Homo sapiens: one gene and its partners. The protein of the gene in region 2 purifies or fractionates together with the protein of the main gene of each other region. This does not show direct contact. Each region holds a gene or a part of one and is shown on either strand. Other genes may lie near its edges. The genes, in order: PRDM11, GTF2H3, ICOSLG and PRMT2.

Region 1 (5,278 bases), on a different chromosome or scaffold from region 2:
ATTCCAGGCCTACCTCTGACATTACTTCCTTGGTGAATCTTTCTCCTCAAAAGGAACAACAAATGGCTCCTTCCTCAGTGCTCTTTTCTCGGCCGGGCACTTGGCATCCAAAACCATGCTCAGTGCAACTGGAGGTGCATTCAGTTCTGAATTAATTGAAGTTATCTGCGAGTGCCTTCATCTCTTGGGCAGACCAAGACCTGCCTGAAGGATCTTGTCATTCTAATCGTGGAACCCCTCCCCCAACCCCCGTCCCCCAGTACCCGACACTCTGCCTGGCACCAAGCAGAGAAATACTCAGGAAACTTACAGTTGCATTGAACCTCATATAACGATAGGGTTGTTACTGTCTCTTGAGCATCTACTGAGAGCAGCTGGGTGCTGGGCCCTTTAAATACACTCTCATGGCTCCTTACACAGAGCCAGGAACGTGGGTATTACTGTGCACCACTTTGCAGATGTGGGAAATAAAGGCTCAGAGAGGTGAAGCCAGTTGCTCCAGATCACACAGCCAGTAACAGGCATGAGATTCCAAGAAGCTGTGTTTGTGACGCCAGAGTCAAGGGAAACAAATGATGTGGTACCCACAGTGCTCCCTCCCTCATCACCCCCACCGCCTCCAGCTCCACATCCAGATTCCAAAAGCCATGAGCACCCCCATCTGACCATGAACGCCCATCTGACCATGAACGCCCATCTGCGGATCGCCAGCAGCAAGGTTGACACGGAACTCCTTCCGCCTTGGGAGGAGGCTTCCCTGGGGTAGTACCCTCTGGGGGCCGTCTGGGCAACTCTTGCAGGGCTTCGTGGATGTTTGGGGAAAGCACTGGACAGCGCCTCGCCCAGGTGCCTTCCTGGGAATCACCAACTGGGGTTTACTGCCCCAATTTTGGAGCTTGCACAGAGCATCCTCCCTTGGTAGGAGAGACGTCGCCATTGGGCCACAGGACTTGTAGAGGACGCCACGAGAAAGGGGTTGATTGGGGAATGGTTGTCCTGGTTACGCCACCCTGCAGTGTCCCTTGCCCTCCTCCAAGGCTTCCAGCCCCATCGCAACCTGTCAGTTTTCCAGGCGCTCAGGAAAGCATGTCAAGCACTCAAGCACTCTGTGACAATTCCACCCCCGGCCCAGTCTTTCCCTCTTCACCCCCTCTCTGTGATGTCGAATCCCATTTCACAGATGGAGAAACTGAGGAATCGAGCAAGTGAATGCCGCTTAAACATCTTTTCCAAGCCAGCCAGGGACCAGCCCCTCCAGTTCTCAGAATCTCTCTCCCTCTGTAACATATTTTGACTTGAAGAACATGTGCGATTCGTGACTACAAAACCGCAACCCCACATAAAGAGTTAATATTTTTAACGAACCCCAAGCCCCTCACCCTCAGCCTTCGCGGGACGCCTGCGTCTCGCAACTTCAGTTTGTATCTCCAAACTGCTGAGCATTCAAAGGGTTAAATGGGACCGGGAGGGGGCCAGCCGCGGAGCCCTGAAAGGGTTAAAAATCCAAACGCGTCGACTCCCCCCGACTATTTGGTTCCAAATGGACAGCCACGCGACCGGGAGAGCCAGGGAGCCCCCCTCACAATGACTTTATTAAAATTTGAGAACTTTTACTTCTGACCCCAAAAAAGTATCCCAGTTCGAAAGTTCTCTCTTAACCTTTTCTTTTTTTCATCTATTTTTTTCTCGATTTCTCCACGGGCTGGATTATAAAACGCTCCCTCTCCCTTTGGGTTTGGAGAGCCGGGTTCCCCCCTCCGGGCAGGGCGCGGGCCTAAGGGGCCCCGGGAGTTTTCTCCGGGGCCGGGTCGGGACGCGGCTGGTGAGTCCCGGCTCCGGCCCCTGAATTGGGGGGTCCGCGTCTGCCCCAAACGCCGCTTTCTTCCGTTTTCCATGTCATTTCCTGTACTAATAAGATGGTGGTCAAAGCAGGGGAGGAGAGCAGCAGCGAGTCGCCGCCGCCGCCGCGCCGAGGCTGGCGCTGAAACTTTGCCTCGCCGGGGACCAGCGCGCCCGCAGCGCGGCCGCTCCCTCCGCGGGGGCCGCCAGCCGAGGCCGCGCCGCCTCCGCCGAGCCGCCCGCCGGGCCGCTCTCGCCGCCCGGGCCCCGCGGCTGCCGCAGCATTCCCGGGAAGGTGAGTCAGCCCCGGTAGCCAATGTGGCCATTGAAAATGGCTTCGGAGAGCGCTCGGCAGTTTGCCAGCGAGCGCGGGGGCCGCCGGTGCGGGGGCCGGGAGCGGCGGCTGGGGGCGGGGGCGGCCGGGGGTCTCGGCGCGGGCGCGGGGCGGGGGTCCGGACGGCGCCGGCGCGGGGTGGGGGGCGGCCCGCCGTGGCCGCGAGGTGGGTGAACCCTCGGCAGGTAGCTGCCGCCGCCGCGGGAGCCGGGGGCCGCCCTCCGCCTCCTTCCTCCCAGCTCGCTCGCTCCTCGCCTTGTTACAATGTAGCCTTTTCTCTCCGCAAGCGGCGCGCCCGCTGACGGACGTGGCCGCCGACCAATGGGAGTGGCGGCCCGGGCCGAGCGCTCGGAATGAGAACGCGGTGACACGGACGGGGCGGGGCGCGGACGCCGACGCCAGAGGGCTCGCCGCGGCCGCCGGCCTAGTTCTCGCGGACGCCCTCGGCCCCGCGCCGGGGGCTGCTGCGGGGTGCTCGGGGATGAAGGTGGGAGGCGTCCTTTGGGATGCGACGAAGCCTTCTCCATCGCGGTTCGCGATTGCCCGCGAAGCGTGGCCGAGCCGGAGGGCATTTCTGGAATGCGTTTTAAGTGTCAGTTGCGGTGTAGACTCTTCGGGAAACCTCTCCGGAGCGTAGCCTCCACCCCCCACTCGCAGTCCCCAAGGTACTCTCCTATGCAGAAACTGCAGAAACTTAGCGGCCAATGACCTCTCTCCGGTCAAGGCCAGCGTGCTCTAGGCGAGTCGCTGCAAAGAGAATACCAATGTCTTGGGCGATGCTGGTGAAAAATTGCTGGTGTGTGTCTAGAGCCCAGTTGGGAGATGGGGGCTTAGAACCCCCCAGGCTGGGCTGGGATTTAGGGGAGAAAAATGTGAAACGTCTCCTCTTTCCTAGACGTTTGCTTCGTGTGGAGAAAGGCTGTGCTGTATAATTTAGAGTGGCTGTAAGGAAACACACCCAGCCCTTTGTGCGTGGGGCCAGGAGGCAATGATGAGAGATTGCTCTTGGTACCTGGAAACCCTATAAACTTTGGGGGTTTGGGGACAGAAGAATTTTCTGTGGAGCATGATGCCTGTAGCAACCAAGCTGGTCCTTGCCCACATTTCCTCTTGGGAGGGAGGAAGGTTCGGGCTTTCCTAGGGTCATTGTTGGAGGTGTAGGGTCGTAGTTGGGGAGCAGGGCACAGTCTTTGCCCGCCGACTCTCTGAAAGGTGGACAAGCAGAGTTCTATAGGGCACGTGTAGAAACCTTCCCTTCTGGGAATAGAGCCCAGACCTCTTGCTGTATTCAGTTTAATGGAAAGGCTTTCTCTCTTTGAATTCTACCTCCTCCTCATAGTCACTGTCTGACTTTGGACTTCACATCGTTGTCTTTGGCCTCTCTGAGCCTTGTGTCTCCATCCCTGAGTCCAACAAAACCTGCCCGGCAAGGAAGTTGTGAAATTAAATGAGATAGCAAAGATGAAATGCCTGTTCCAGGGCCTGGCATACTGTTTAAGAAGTGTTCTCCCCCAGAATCACGGCAGAAGGTACTGACCTGGGAATATCAGAATTGCCCCCACAGACCCCACCGTGGTCCATCCAGTCTCAAACTGACAGGGCCCCAAGGAACAGCTGGTGGCAGGGTCTCGTTTCCTTCCCTGGTGACGTTCACAAAGATGAGGGACTCCCCTCAGTTGTCCTAGGAGTCCTAGATTGGTCATGATAGCCATCACCTCTGCACTTATGGACTCATTTGACCTGAGTTACAGTTCTGTCGTCTAGACTTCTTGGGTTGATGTGTTCCATCAATTTCTTCTCCTTGGTGTCAAGTAGGATTTCTCCTATTTGGATCTGCCCTCTCCTGGACTTACAGGGAGTTTCCCTGGTTCCAGGTTGTTGGCAAGTATAAAGTAAAGAACACTGGGGTAGGAGTCGGGAGTCCTGCCTGTGGATTCAGCTGCCTTCTTGGCCTGCTCTCTTGGCTGTCTCATAGGCATGACAAACCCACAGTGGCCAAAGGTGTCCATAATCTTCCTCTCTAAACCTCTTCTAGGGCTCTGATCTTGGCCAAGAGCACACTGTCCCACTACTCTTTAAGGCAGAAGCCTTGGTGTCTCTGTCTCTGTCACCCCAATCTACTCCATCTCCAGACCCAGATAACTTTATCCTCTCAAATGAACCCATCCACTTCTCTCCATCCCCTCTTCCCCAGTGTTGTAGTCAAGCCATCGCTGTCTCTCCCCAGGACAACAGCAAGAGCCTCCTAATGTCTACCTGCAGTCACCCCCTCATGGCAGTCAGAGTGATCCATTCCAAATAGGATCATATCAGGCATCCCATTTCCTGCTTTAAACACCTAGAAGTCTTTCCAGTGTGTTGGGGATAAAGAACCAAATTGGTGTAGTGACCTAAAAGCTACCGAATGATCTGGCCCCTGCCCTTGACCTCATCTTCTATCCTCTCCTAGATCTCTCTGAACTCCATACCCCGATCTCTCCTACATAGGCTGGCCTTTCCTCCTCAAATCCTTGAGCTGTTGTCATCTAATGAATAAATTAAGGTTAGCAAAGGGCACAGTGGGATGGGAGTGTCTGGTGGTCCTTAGTGCTTTCCTCTTACTATTTCCGGTTCTTCCATTTCCACAGTAGGTTGACTGGAGCTCTACCTGCGCTTGGGTGGGGGCCCCATGACTGGCTGGTGAATTATAAATGACAGTGATTCACGTCACTTCTGGGCCACAGCATTTAATTGCTGGTGTGAGACCCTCCACAGTGCACTTTCCCTGTGGCATGGCAACTGGTAGTAAGGCGGGATGGTGGTGGCTGCTGCCAGCCTGAGTCCCTGTGTCACTCCGTGCGTGAAGCCCTTGGTGACCCATGATGGACATGCAACATGAGTGAAAACTAAACCTTTGCTGTTTTAAACTGCTGAGCTGTTGGGGCTGTTTGTTACTGCAGCATAACTTAGCCTGTGCTGACCGATGCAGGGACTAGAGAGGCATTTTAGGCAGAGAGACAAGTAGTGCATGTGCAGTTAATGCACAGAGAGAGGACCCTGACTTGGAAAGCAGCTAGGGTGATCTTTTCGACATGCATATCTGAGCTTATAAACCCCTGCCTGAAA
Region 2 (4,478 bases):
TAGGCAGATCACCTGAGTTTAGGAGTTCGAGATCAGCCTGGCCAACATGGTGAAACTCCAACTCTACTAAAAATACAAAAAATTAGCTGGGCGTGGTGACGGATGCCTGTAATCCCAGCTACTCGGAAGGCTGAGGAAGGAGAATCACTTGAACCCAGGAGGCAAAGGTTGCAGTGAGCCGAGATCGCGCCATTGCACTCTAGCCTGGGCAACAAGAGCAAAACTCCGTCTCAAAAAAAAAAAAAAAAGGCCACAAAAACCTCCCCACTATAACCTGTTTGATTCCATTTACATGAAAAAAATCTAGAAAATCCAAACTAATCTACAGTGACACAAAGAGATCAAGAGTTGCCTGGGAGTACAGACAGGCAAAGAAGGTGTGGTCGAGAGTGGGACCAGATTACAAACGAACAAACATGAAGAATCAGCCAGGTGCGGTGGCTCACTCCCATAATCCCAACACTTTAGGAAGCCAAAGCGGGCAGATCACATGAGGCCAGGAGTTCGAGACCAGCCTGGCCAACATGGCAAAACCCCATCTCTACTAAAAATACAAACAATTAGCTGAGCATGGTGGTACGCACCTGTAGTCCCAAGTACTCGGGAGGCTGAGGCATGAGATGGTGGTGCTGATGGACACACAAATCAATGAATGTGGTAAAACTGCACAGAACCACACACATACACGCACGCACGCATACACACAAGTGAGCACATGTAAAACCTGCAATCTGCTTAGGTCTGTAGATTGCACTGATAGTTTCAAAATTGTACTATCATTATGTAAAATGTCACCACTGAAAGAACTTGAGTGATGGGTACACAGGACCTCTCTGTATCTTTTCTGGTTTCCTATGTCTATATTATTTAAAAATAAAATATTTCAAAATAGAAAGTATTTTTTAAGACCACATATTGTATGAAATCAATACATGAAATGTCCAGAAAAGGGAATTTAGAGATAGAGGGCAGATCAGTGGTTGCTTGCAGCTTGGAGATAGAAGCAGGGATTGACTGCAAGCAGGCATGAGGGAACGCTACGCAGTCAAAGAAATATTCTAAAGCAGAAATGTGGGGCTGGTTACACAACTTCGCAAATTTACTTAAAAAAAATCACTGAATTGTACAGTGGCTGAATATTACAGTATGTAAATTATACTTTAATAAAGCCATTTTTTAAAAAAGCAATATAAACACTCAGTTAAACCAGAATTCTCCAAAGGCCTCCTCAAGCAGTCTTACCTGAGATTCCTTTAATGCTTGCTTTCCCCACCAAATTGGGTTGGCATCAACTACAATAACCAGAAGATTCAATTCATCTTCTGAAAATATTAACAAGAAATAAAATTTAAAACATTAGCTCCATAAAAATGAATCAAAGCTAACATTCCCAATTCATAAATTAAATCCAGAGCACCACTATATGCCTTAAATGTTTATCACCTTATAATTATGAGATTAACAGAAGACCCAGTTAAAGCTTTAAAGCTGGGCAGGGCGTGGTGGCTCACGCCTGTAACCCCAGCACTTTGGGAGGCCGAGGCAGGCAGATCACGAGGTCAGGAGATCGAGACCATCCTGGCTAACACGGTGAAACCCCGTCTCTACTAAAAATACAAAAAATTAGATGGGCGTGGTGGTGGGCGCCTGTAGTCCCAGCTACTCGGGAGGCTGAGCCAGGAGAATGGCGTGAACCCAGGAGGCGGAGCTTGCAGTGAGCCGAGATCACGCCACTGCACTCCAGCCTGGGCCACAGAACAAGACTCTGTCTCAAAAAAAAAAAAAAAAAAAAAGCTTTAAAGCACAGTGGGCCCTTAGCAAGTTCTTGTCTACGTCCTGAACCACTATATCTCCAATGCACTAAATGTAAACTCTGTGAGGGTAGGAATTTTTGTCTCTTTTGTTCACTGCTTATCCTCACTCCTACCACACTGCCTAGCACATTGCAGCTGCTCAATAAATATCTACTGAACGAGGGCCAGGTGTGGTGGCACAGGCCTGTAGTCCTAGCACTTTGGGAGGCCAAGACAGGCAGATGGCTTGAGCTCAGAAGTTCCCAAGACCAGCCTGGGCAATATCGCAAAACCTTTTCTCTACTAAAAATATAAAAATTAGGGCCGGGCGCGGTGGCTCATGCCTGTGATCCCAGCATTTTGGAAGGCCAAGGAGGGGGGATCACTTGAGGTCATAAGTTCAAGACCAGCCCGGCCAACATGTTGAGCCACCCCATCTCTACTAAAAATACAAAAAAAAAAAAAAATTAGCTGGGTTTGGTGGCAAGCACCTGTAATCCCAGCTACTCGGGAGACTGAGGCAGGAGAATCACTTGAACCCGGGAGGCGGAGGCTGCAGTGAGCCAAGATTGCACCACTGCACTCCAGCCTGGGTAACAGAGCAAGACTTCATCTCGGGGAAAAAAAAATAGCCGGGCATGGTGGCACATGCCTGTAGTCCCAGCTACTCAGGAGGGTGAGGAGAGAGGATCGCTTGAGACCGGGAAGTCGAGGCTACAGTGAGCCATGTTCCTGCCAATGCACTCCAGCCTGGGAGACAGAATGAGACCCCGTCTGGAAACAAACAAACAAACAAACAAACAAACAAAACCACCTACTGCATTCTGAATGCCTGGTCAAGGACAGAAGGCACTGGTTAACTAGTAGTAGGAATCCCAGTGGTAGAATTTCAGGAGCAAAAAATTAAAGGGAGGCGTAGCTGTCAATTTGGCCCGTACTCATCAAATCATGTAGCAGCAAGGCCAATCGTAATTAAGAGTCACTTTTTAAAAGGTAAAAAAACCAGGCTGGGCGCCCATCCCAGCCCTTTGGGAGGCTGAGGTGGGCAGATCACTGAGGTCAGGAGTTCAAGACCAGCCTAGCCAATATGGCAAAACCCCGTCCCTACTAAAAATACAAAATATTAGCCGGGCATGGTGGTGCACACCTGTAATTCCAGCTACTCGGGAGGCTGAGGCAGGAGAATCACTTGAACCTGGCAGGCAGAGGTTGCAGTGAGCTGAGATCTTGCCACTGCACTCCAGCCTGGGTGACAGAGTGGGACTCTGTCTCAAAAAAAAAAAAAAAAGTTAAAAAACAGAGGGAAAAGCAATTCCTACGTCAAGATTTTACTGTTAAGAGGAATTCTATTCTCTAAACTAAACAGGCTACCACAACACATTAATCATTCATTTGGATTTTTGTTTTTTGGGTTTTTTTTAAGAGATGGGGGGGTCTCAATAAATTGCCCAGGCTGGTCTTGAAATCCTGGGCTTGTGATCCTCCTGCATCAGCCTCCCCAGTAGTAAGGACTACATGCACGCACCACCCCAAACACATTAATCCTTCAACAAACTTTCACACTACCAGTGTTAGGTGTTGGGGATACTGGGTCCAACCCCTCAAAGAGACTATACTCTAATTGAGGTGACAGACAGACATACAAACCTGTGAGTATACACTGTTATGAAAGGCCCAGGATGCTCATTTATTTATTTATGTATTTTTAAACAAATTTTTGAGACAAGGTCTCAAGGTTGGAGTACAGTGCCACGAATATAGCTCACTGCAGCCTTGACCTCCTGGGCTCAAGTGATCTTCCTGTCTCAGTCTCCCACACAGCTGGGACAACAGGCGTGCACTACCACATCCAGCTAATTATTATTTTTTTTTTTTGAGACGGAGTTTTGCTCTTGTTGCCCAGGGTGGAGTGTAATGGCGCGATCTCGGCTCACCGCAACCTCCGCCTCCCGGGATCAAGCGATTCTCCTGCCTCAGCCTCCTGAGTAGCCGGGATTACAGGCATGCACCACCACGCCCAGCTAATTTTGTATTTTCAGTAGAGACAGAGTTTCTCCACGTTGGTTAGGCTGGTCTCGAACTCCCGACCTCAGGTGATCTGCCCGCCTTGGCCTCCCAAAGTGCTGGGATTACAGGCATGAGCCACCACACCCAGCCACTTGGCTAATTTTTAAATTTTTGTAGAGACAGGGTCTCACTTTGTTGCCTAGGCTGGTCTCGAACTCCTGGGCTCAAGTGATCCTCCCACCTCAGCCTCCTAAAGTGTTGGGATTACAGGCATGTGCCGCCGTGCCCGGCTCTAGGATGCTCATTTAATAGCAAAGAGCAGTAATGCCTTTCCTCCCTCCGTACTTTGCTTCCTGCAGTCCTGTCTTCTACATTAGGAGAATCTCTACCCCATCTTTGATTTCTGTGTATTCAAATCCCAATTACTCCTCAAAGCCCCAAACCAGCGCAAACTCTTTCTTCTTCATGACTCCCCTATCTCAGAGCAGAAGGAATGCCAGCCTCCTCTGCACTAAGCACCGGAATCTGCAATCCCAAAATCCCATTCCACCCTGACAACCACCCAGCAAAGGACATTTTCCTGCCATTTTTCATCAATTATAAGATGACCCCCACCCCTTGTTTTTTACATTGAATAGTTGTTGACATCTGGATGGTATCTTTATCATTAAGATTAGC
Region 3 (4,986 bases), on a different chromosome or scaffold from region 2:
ACGCCATTCTCCTGCCTCACCCTCCCAAGTAGCTGGGATTACAGGTGCCCGCCACCATGCCCAGCTAATTTTTTGTATTTTTAGTAGAGATCGGGCTTCACTATGTTGGCCAGCCTGGTCTCGAACTCCTGACCTCAGGTGATCCACCCGCCTTGGCCTCCCAAAGTCCTGGGATTACAGGAGTGAGCCACTGCACCTGGCACCTGCAGGAAAATCTGTGTGTGTCCCCTGCCCCCAAAGCCCTCTGGGCTGGAAGGCTTGGCAAGGTTTCAGGTTTGTGCTGCGGTGCTTCGTCCTTATTCCTGGCTCTTCCAGAGGCTGGTGGCTCTTAGGGCTCAGCAGGGCTGCTGCCTGGGACAGGGAGACCAGGGGACCCAGGAAGCCCTGGCTCAGAGGAACTGCATTCTGCCCGCAACAAAGACGGAGTCAAACAAGAACTCCGGAGTTTGCAGAAGTGTTTCCCTTTAAGGAAACGCTTCTATCCTGTGCAGCAACCTAGGTTTAGGGTCCAACTGTCTCCAAAGGACCACTTGAGAAGCAAGAAGGAGCCTGGTGAGGCTGCTCCCAGTGCCCTGCGGCCAGCAGTCCACACAGCCGGAGAGCCCATCTCTGAGCTGGGCGCCCCATGGCAAAGCACCCCCTGAACTTACCAGCTCGAAGGCTGCTGAAGAGCAGGAAGAGCAGTCCAGGACTGGAAAAAACAACCAGAAAGGCAGGTGAGGCGGGGCCACCAGGGAGTTACCTGTATCTTCCAAACAGGAACAGGCTGGTTCCCATGAGCAGGAGGTAGTTAAGCCCATCACAGAAATGTGAAGGCAGAGCCAGGAGCCTGCCTGCCTCTGTTCTCCATGGGAATTCGGGGTCCGGGGCCAGGACCACCACCCTCCTGCCCAGCACAGCAAGTCCGAGGGGCTGGCAGCCTCTCACCACTCTCTAGCTCTCGCGGTAACAAATCCCCAGAAACACAGTGATGCTGGCGTGAGGATGAAGGGGAGCGAGGGACGCCAGTGAGGCTGGTCTAGCCTTCCTGGGGACAGATGCCAAGAAGTTGTAGGAAATCAGAAAAAAAAAAAAAAAAAAAAGCTTTCAGGGCACATATAGTAGGAGTGTCACTTAAAATGCTGGGGAGACGGAGAACATCAGGCGTGCCCGTGACAGGGTCAGGTGAGTGACGGGACAGCCCTGTGCGGAACGCGGATCATTTTGAAACCAAACCTGAGCTCCTCCTGTTTCAGATCCTGCTGCAGCTGGTGCCCCTGCCTCGGGCAGCAAATTCCCCTCGTGACTCCAATGCCCCTGCCATCTTGGGTCTGGGAGCCTTTGCACCCTGCACGCCACAGGCTCGCCACCTCCTCCCGCCAGCCCCCAGGATGCCTTCCCCACGTGGGGGCCCTTAGTGGCCGGGACCACTTTGGTAGCAGTGCTTACCCCAGCCCCCCAAACCATCAGTTTCTGGGGCCAGCTCCCCATGAAGCAAGAGCCCCAGGAGCAGGGACATCTCCTTCTCTGATGTCCCTGCACCTCCAAGGTCTGGGAGACGCTCATCCCTCTTCTCTGTGGCCTCTGCCTGGGAAAGCTTGGGGGCTTTGTAAGTCAAAGGTTGGTCTTGTGGGAACCTCCCAGTGGGCTGTCCCTGAGCCCTGGAGCCACAGAAACCCCTGCCCCACCCACGATGGCTGTCATCTGAGTCTGCATGGAGGTGTGTCTGTGCCAAGTGAGCACACATGCACCAAGGCGGCCCCTGGCCACCAGGGGCTCTTGAAGTCTGCAGGCGGCCCTTCCTCTCTCTCCCACTCCCCCTGTTGGGGCCACCATTCTGGCTGGCAAGATGGCTGTGATGGCCTCCAGCAGGCCCCCTGCCTCCACCCTTAGCCCCTTCAAGCATTTCCCCAGAGCCACCATCTAAACGACAGCTGTGAGAACTCCTCTGTGCCCCCATTTGTCTCCCACAGTGCCCATATTCATCACCAGCCCACAAGGCCCCTCCTGTCTATGGAGGCCTCCTCAGGACATCTGGGGGCTTCCTGGGCCAGGGTGGGGGGTGCCTGCTCCAGGCTGTTTCTGGCTTGTCCCCTCCCTGGGTGCTGCCTAAGCAGCGGCCTCTGTGTCCTTTCCTTGGACCCTCAGCACCCCTGCATCTAACCTACCCCCACCCCGAGCTTGCCTCAAGACCCAGCATGGACAGGGCCGCCTACCTGAAGGTGTGGGTGGCGGAGGGCTAAGACATTTGGGAGGGCTATGACATTCCGGGACCTTTAAATTCTTTCTCTCTAGGGCAGGATCATAACTGCATACACTTCTAATGGGGAGGGGACCTGGGGAGTGTGACTCCGGTGTGGCCCAGCTCTGAGCTGTGCGGGAGGCATCCCTGGGGTCAGGGGCCTCACAGGTTCACCCAGGGGAGCACAGGCTGCGGACCCTACAACGTGGGTTGCGAAGAGTATATTTTGGATATTTTCGCAAAAATCCAGGAGGAAGCTGTCACTCCTGGTTCAGGCAGCCCCGCCTTCCCCAGTGTGGATCGGCTGCCGGGCTGCGGGGAATCCCACGTGTGTGGGGGAGGGCGTGTCCGCAGACCGTGGGCACCAGCTGGCCTTGGAGAGCGCTCGGCCGGTCACCTCCCTCCTTCTCCCTTCTTCTAGGAAATCAGCAGTGCCAGGGAGTGGAAGGGGCAGCGCCCGTGCCCCGGCGTGCAGGGTGCGCCCGCCTTCCCTCCCTCCTTCCAGCGTTCGCGGTCCTCCTTCCCTGGCAGGGACCCCGCCCCCGAGCCCGCCCCCGCACGGCTGTGCGTCCTGCCATGGGTCCCGGTGCCAGGCCCCGCCGCCCACTGCCGTCCACGCCCCGCCGGCCGCCCCGGCGCCTCCGCCGCCCGCTCCTCGGACCCGCACTGCCAGCCCGGCACCTCCAGGCGAGCCCCGCAGGCCCCGCGTCCGAGCCGAGCTGGGGACGCGCGGGCCGAGCCACCCCGCCCCTGACCGCGGCGCCTCCGCTCCTTCCCCGGCTCACCTGCCCAGCCGCATGGTGCGGGCGGAGACCTCGGGCCGCGGAGACCTCGGGGCGCGGAGACCTCGGGGCGCGGAGAACTTGGGCCGCGGGAGACCTCGGAGAGGAGCAACCTCGGGGCGCGGGAGATCGGCTCTAACTGCGCTCCCGCCGCGCCCGAGGCTCTGAGCGCCCAGCGCGCGGTGTGCTGGAGGCAGCCGTGTCCCCGCCCCGTCCCCGCCCCGCCCCCGGCCTGGCTCCTCTGGCGACCGAGACCGCCCCGGGACAGGAGGCGGGGCGCTGCGCGGCGGCTCCGGAAAGTTCGGCTCTGCCCAGGCGTGTGCCCGTCGGCCGGAGGCGGGACAGAGGCAGGTCGGCCTGTCCGCCTGGACGCGGACCTGGGCGCCGTAGGTGCCCTGGGAAGCGCAGGGGTGGGGGGTACCCGGCAGGAAGGTGGCCAGGGGTGCTGCGGGTGCCGGCGCAGCGAGGGAGGGCACCGTGGGAGGCAAGGGCCGTTCCCCGCGCCGCGCACAATGCGCCGGTCCTGCGGCCCTCCCCGAGCAGGAGTCCGGGGACCCAGGCCCCAAGGCTGGGAGAGCGCCAGGCCCCTGGCCGGCTGCGCTCCGATGATCTCCAGGACTTAAGGCGAGTGAGCTCAGCGACTGCTGAGGAATGAATGACTGAATGAACGCATGCATGAATGGAAGGAGGGAGGGAAAGTGGGCGGGCTCTACCCTCTGGGCCAGCCCCAGCCCGCCCCCACCTAGCCTTGCTCCCCTAGCCTTCTAGGGGTGTGAAGGGCGCTGGCGCAGCCTCTTTGCTTAACACTGGCTCTGAGGATCCCCCGCCGAGAAACCGAGGCAGGCTTGCGGCTCTGGGCTCGTCAGCCTTGGCAGTGGCGTCTGGCCTGGAGTCTGGGGCAGCTGGTTTGGGAAAGGCTGCACCACGCAACCGAGGGTGGGACCCAGAGTCCCTGCTCCTTCCCCACCGCACCCAGCCCACCCCGCCCTCCCTCCCTGATCCCTGCAAGCCAGGTGAGGCCCAGGGGGGACGTGACTCCCTTTCTGCAGAGGCACCTCCGGAAGGGCCTGGGTGAGGCTGCTAGACAGGGCAGCGGGGCACCCTCCTCCCGGAGCCCCCGCCTCTGGGCTGAGGCTCGGATCCCCACCGCCTCCTGCGCATGGAGGAGGCGAGAAGCGCAGGGAGACGGGGGCCCCAGACGGCACCCCGCAGGCTGCCATTCCTTCAACCAAGATGTAGAGAACGCCGTGGACAAAAGCTTTAAAAAAATTCTGAAACCTCTGCCCGTGGGAAGTCAACATTTTTGCGGAGCAGAGAGCCCAGGCACAAAATAAGAAGGCGGAAGAGACGGGCTGGGGGGATAGGGGGGACGGCGGCGGGGAAGGGCAGGGAGGGCGGCGGCGAAGGCGCAGGAAGCCCTGAAGCCGGGCGGCTTCCCCCTCCCAGGCCACGCTGAGAGACGGGGGTTGGGGGGATTTAAAATCGCGCGCCTGGCAGGGGCGGGGCGGGGGCCACCTGCCCTCCGGCGGGAAGAGCTGGGCAGGGCCCGCGGAGTGCAGGGCGGAGGCACTGGCGGTCCGCACCCGGGTGAGGTGAGGCGCGTAACCGCATCTGAGCCGGACTCTTTAGGACGAGTCCCGTCCCTGGAGTCAGAAAACCCGGTCCAGCGCCAGCGTGGACGTGCGCTTCCCGGGACACGCCCAGGGACGCCGGCTAGGACCGGCGAGGCTGGAGGGGTGGCGATGTTGGGGGCTGAGGTTCCTCGCCCCGGGGCGGGCGGCTGCTGGTAAGGGACCGCATGGCCCCGCAGGTGAGGAGGGCGCAGGTGAGGAGGGCGCAGGTGAGCCGGGCGGGCTGCGGGCAGCGCCACCTCCTCCCGGAGGCCCTCCCTGATTGACCGGCCGGGAACCGCGCGCCTCTGGGCCTGCGGCTGAGGTCCGGGGCTGCGCCGCGCCGATGAGCTGACGCCGGGCCGAGCGCTCC
Region 4 (4,478 bases), on a different chromosome or scaffold from region 2:
GTCTAAGGCGAGGAGACCCTGGCCAGGGACGAAGGCCCTACTGGCATTAAAGAAACAGCCTTACCTGTTAGGCACAGGATTTTTACAGATCCCCGAGGAGAACACAGTTCATGTAAATCACTCATGAAAATGTTACATGAACTTTGACTTAAATTTCTCATAAAGGCATTTTTTAAATCAGGTGAAAATTCAAGACACTGAGCCAATGTCCACACAAGAAATTAATTAGACCTCACATTAGGGAAAACATCAAAATGAATCACGCACGACCCTTGAGATCCTGAGGTTGGCCCAGCCGAGCCCGTGCTCAGAAGCCCCCCAGCTCCGGCCCCCAGCTGCCCGCACGCCCGCCCTCACCAGCAGGCAGGTCCCCATCCACTCAGACACCAGCACGTCCACCTTCTCGGGCAGCACCACATCCTCCACCTTCTGCTGGTACACGGTGATGATGTCAGCAAAGCCGTTCTGCAGGACCAGCTGCCCCGTGTGCTGTGCCATCTCACTGGCCTCCACCGCGTACACCTGCAGCAGCAGAGGCACCGTCAGCGTACATCCGGCCGGCACACGGCCCGTCATCTACTCTCCTGAGTCACAACCAGCATCACGAGAAATGGTCAATGACACAAGAGGGAAGCAGCATTCCAGACAGCAGAGGCAGCGAGGACTGGCCACACCTGCCCCTCCAGGGGCACCCAGAAAGGAGCCGCCTCTAACCCTCCCAACTGCCCCCACCTCCCGGACAAGACACAGACGCAGGGCTGCAAGTGGATGGAAGACTCGCATGCCCGAGCCGGCTGCCACACGCACAGCAATCTTAATCCATGACCAGCACAGCAACTTCTTAGCACCCAAGTGACAATGCTGGTCTGTGCCACATCTGAGGCCTGTCAGACAATTTCAAACCCAGGTTCTCAGGGAAGGGTCTGGTGGGAAGCACCCAAGCGCTGGGTCCTGGGTCCTGCAGAGCCTGGACTTGGGTGGACACTGTGCTGCGACCCCACCCACTGTGTAAGGAGTCTCCAAGGCTGCAGCTCGGCTCAGCTCAGCACAGTATAGACGGCCTAAGAGGGGTGGGGAGGGGGCCCAGCGTGTGCATCCCTCCCAACCCCATGAGACCAACCACACCCAAGGCCCAGCACAGACATGTGGGTGCACGTGTTTCTCTACTCAACTGAAATAAACGTCTCACAGAACATACCCCGCCCCACGCAATTCACGGGATATTGTCTATTCTGCCCTACTCCCGTCTGTGCTGTCTGCGACTCATTGTACGCGGGCGCCACGGCCTCTAGCACGCGGTCTCCACGCACTGCTATTTTACCGACCCTGAGCCCCACGTGCAGGGTGCTCAACAAGACCATGGAGTCACCGGTGAGCCCCCAACAGCTCAGGGTCACAAGTCAGCACACTCAGAGGCCACCTCGGACGTCACCAGCCTCGGCACAAACACCCGGGATGCGCTCGAGACCCCACTCACCGCTCTAGGCCGCGCATAGTGTGCACAGAAGAGACTGATGATCCCAGTCCCACAGCCCACGTCCAGGATGACTTTATCCGTCAGGGATTCTTTATTCTGCAGGATGACACTGTGGTATTTAGTTGTTCGTGGCTGGTCTGCCAACATCTCCAAGTGGAGTTTCTGGAAGAAATGCACATTCAGAATCACTGCCTGTGACCTAGAGCCATGCTGAGGTCTGGACTGAGATGGAGGGTCAGAGCCACAGCTGATGACCCCTGACCCCAACACCCCTATGGAAGACTATGGAAGGCCTGGACATCACTGTCAACCAAGTTAATCTCATTGGTATTTAGAGAACACTTCACCCACCCCCTTATAACAGTAATAATACACAAAAAATACCTAGGAACAAATTTAACAAGAAAGGTGCACAACCATGTATGACAAAGAGATATTGTCCTTATCTTAAAATACTAAGAGATATTAAACAAAGCTTAAGTAATCAGAGACTGAGAGTCAATGTTATAAAGATGTCAGCTCTCCCAAAATTAACATAAACATTCCATGCAGTACCTACTAAAGGAGAAAGCACAACAAAATGATAATAAAATTAGTTTCAAAACAGTAAGTGCCCAAGGCTAATGAGGAAAATGCTTTAAAAAAAAAAGAACTGCTGGAGACCTAGCTCTTGCAGATCCTACAAAGGTGCAGTGATGGAAATGACGAAGCACTGGGAACTGCAGTAAACAGACCAGTGAAACAACAGGAATTCTACAGCAGACCCCTGAAATCCAGAGCAGGACAAACGCACCGTTTCACATCAACGCGAAGGGAACTGTCCAGTAACTGAGGCTGGGGTCGCTGGAGATTTGTGGGCATACATTAGGGCGGAATTTTACATTATATTTTTTACAACAAATAATTTCTAGATTTTTTATTATTTAAAATCTCATTGTTTAAAATAGAATCAGAAGGCCAGGCAGGGTGCCTCACCCCTGTAATCCCAGTACTTTGGGAAGCTAAGGTGAAGGTCCCTTAAACCCAGGAGTTTGAGGATACAGTGCACTATGACTGCACCACCGCACTCCAGCCACTCATACGACAGAGTGTGACACCATCTCTAAAAAACATAAAAAACAAAAATAAAATAACACAGAATCATAACAGTTCTGAAAACAAAAGTGTGGGTATTTATAATCTTATAGTGAGGAAGGTTTTTCACAAAGAAAAGAAAAAGAAGTCACAAAGAAAAGAAAACCATATTAGGCTATACAAAGAAAAAAGTTGTACGTGGGAAAAAATTTCACAAAGTCACAAAACTTCACAAATTCAGGCTAAATTACTTAACACACGAATCAACAAAAATCAAAAGGGGCAAATAATATGAAAGTTTACAAAAAAAGAAAAAATACAAAAGGCCCATAAACACATAAAAGATAATCAATCTTACTTAAAAAATGGAAATCAAAACTAAAAGATGCCATATTTAACTTTTAAGATCAAAGTCCTTTTTCACTTTGATTTGTGGTAGGGAAATGAGCTTTCACACACCATCATGCCACGGTCTGAAATGTCTCCAAAAATCCATGTACTGAAACTTAATCGTCAGTGTGATGGCATTAAGAGGCCACCTTTGGAGGTTACTATGAAAGGGTTTGTGGTGAAAGAGGTGCTCCCAGCCCTCCCGCCTTCACCACGTGAGGACAGCCATGAGGCGCCATCTTGGACACCAATGCCAATGCCTTCCCAGCCTCCAGAACTGCGAGAAACAAAGCTTTGTTCTTCATAATTCACTCAGTCTAAGGTATTTTGTTACAGCAGCACAAACAGACCAAGTGTATAATTAGCAAATCTTTCTGGAGGGCGAACTGGCAAGATCCACTTAAGGAAACCACATGTACACACTACACACACACACCCCGTAGGAATTTACCCTATAGAAATTCTAAACAGCATTTAACAGGATTATACAGGACTCCATTACAGCATTATTTATCATGATAAAAAGCTATTAAATAACCACTGTCCAAATATCAACAGGACCCTTTTAAAGTAACACAACGCTCTGCAGCTGTTATAAAGAGTGACAGGTGCCAATATGAGAGATCTTCAAAATACTACAGCTACGTGAAAAGAGCAAGGTGAAGACCTGAGTGGTGGAACAATGCCTTTTCTATACATTAAAAACGTAAAATACATTAGGTGTCACTTGGACTTCATAAGCACAGAGGAATCTGGTGGGCAGTGGTTCTTTGAGCTGAGAGGCGGCAGAGGTGGGAGGCTGGAATTGGCTTTTCATTATGTATCTTTCCTTAACGGATAGAAATCACTAACCATGTACAGACATGAATAGTTTTTAACACTTTTAATTGTGAAATATGGCATACCTGCGAAAAAGTGCAATAAAAAGTATCTGCAGAGTTAGTCAAGTATTGTTATATAGCAAACACCTCTATACCTATATCCAACCCCAGAACACTGCCAGCATGTCAGAACTCCTGACTCAGCCACGCTGGTCCCAGAGCCTCCCCTACCAGCAGGTAACCTCCATTCAACCAACAGGGGAGCCACTCCTGCCCTCAGTCAGTCTCAGCACCCATGCACACTCACAAACAGTACCTTCCGGCCGGGCGCAATGGTTCATGCCTGTAATCCCAGCCCTTTGGGAGGCTGAGACAGGAGGATCACTTGAGGCCAGGAGTTCAAGACCAGTCTGGCCAACATGGCAAAACCCCCTCATTAAAAATACAAAAATTAGCCAGGCATGGTGGCACGCACCTGTAGTCCCAGGTACACAGGAGGCTGTGGCAGGAGAATTGCTTGAACCCGGGAGGCAGAGGCTGCAGTGAACTAGGATCCTGCCACCACACTCCAGTCTGGGTGACAGAGCAAGACTACGTCTCAAAAAAAAAAAAACAAAAACAAACAAAAAACCTTCTAATATGGCCTCTTAACTTTATATAATTGAGTCAAACGTTATAGATTCTTTGCCCTATTCCTTCTTTCAACTAACATCATT

The links.
Region 1: the proteins of GTF2H3 (region 2) and PRDM11 purify together in Homo sapiens (affinity purification with mass spectrometry; one large-scale study listed by BioGRID and IntAct). This does not show direct contact.
Region 3: the proteins of GTF2H3 (region 2) and ICOSLG purify together in Homo sapiens (affinity purification with mass spectrometry; one large-scale study listed by BioGRID and IntAct). This does not show direct contact.
Region 4: the proteins of GTF2H3 (region 2) and PRMT2 purify together in Homo sapiens (affinity purification with mass spectrometry, with the first as the bait; one large-scale study listed by BioGRID). This does not show direct contact.

What each region holds. Positions count from the first base shown.
Region 1 is NC_000011.10:45,144,744-45,150,021, forward strand, and holds the start of PRDM11 (PR domain-containing protein 11), read left to right. Parts: upstream 1-1,895; 5' UTR 1,896-2,134; intron 2,135-2,599; exon of another isoform or gene 2,600-2,838; intron 2,839-5,278.
Region 2 is NC_000012.12:123,636,108-123,640,585, reverse strand, and holds part of GTF2H3 (general transcription factor IIH subunit 3), read right to left. Parts: intron 1,323-4,478; coding exon 1,243-1,322; intron 1-1,242. UniProt on the Homo sapiens protein: Component of the general transcription and DNA repair factor IIH (TFIIH) core complex, which is involved in general and transcription-coupled nucleotide excision repair (NER) of damaged DNA and, when complexed to CAK, in RNA transcription by RNA polymerase II.
Region 3 is NC_000021.9:44,237,798-44,242,783, forward strand, and holds the start of ICOSLG (ICOS ligand isoform a precursor), read right to left. Parts: upstream 3,147-4,986; 5' UTR 3,021-3,146; coding exon 3,007-3,020; intron 1,028-3,006; exon of another isoform or gene 801-1,027; coding exon of another isoform or gene 743-800; exon of another isoform or gene 692-742; coding exon 651-691; intron 1-650. UniProt on the Homo sapiens protein: Ligand for the T-cell-specific cell surface receptor ICOS. Acts as a costimulatory signal for T-cell proliferation and cytokine secretion. Also induces B-cell proliferation and differentiation into plasma cells.
Region 4 is NC_000021.9:46,645,619-46,650,096, reverse strand, and holds part of PRMT2 (protein arginine N-methyltransferase 2), read right to left. Parts: intron 1,640-4,478; coding exon 1,478-1,639; intron 523-1,477; coding exon 358-522; intron 1-357. UniProt on the Homo sapiens protein: Arginine methyltransferase that methylates the guanidino nitrogens of arginyl residues in proteins such as STAT3, FBL, histone H4. Acts as a coactivator (with NCOA2) of the androgen receptor (AR)-mediated transactivation.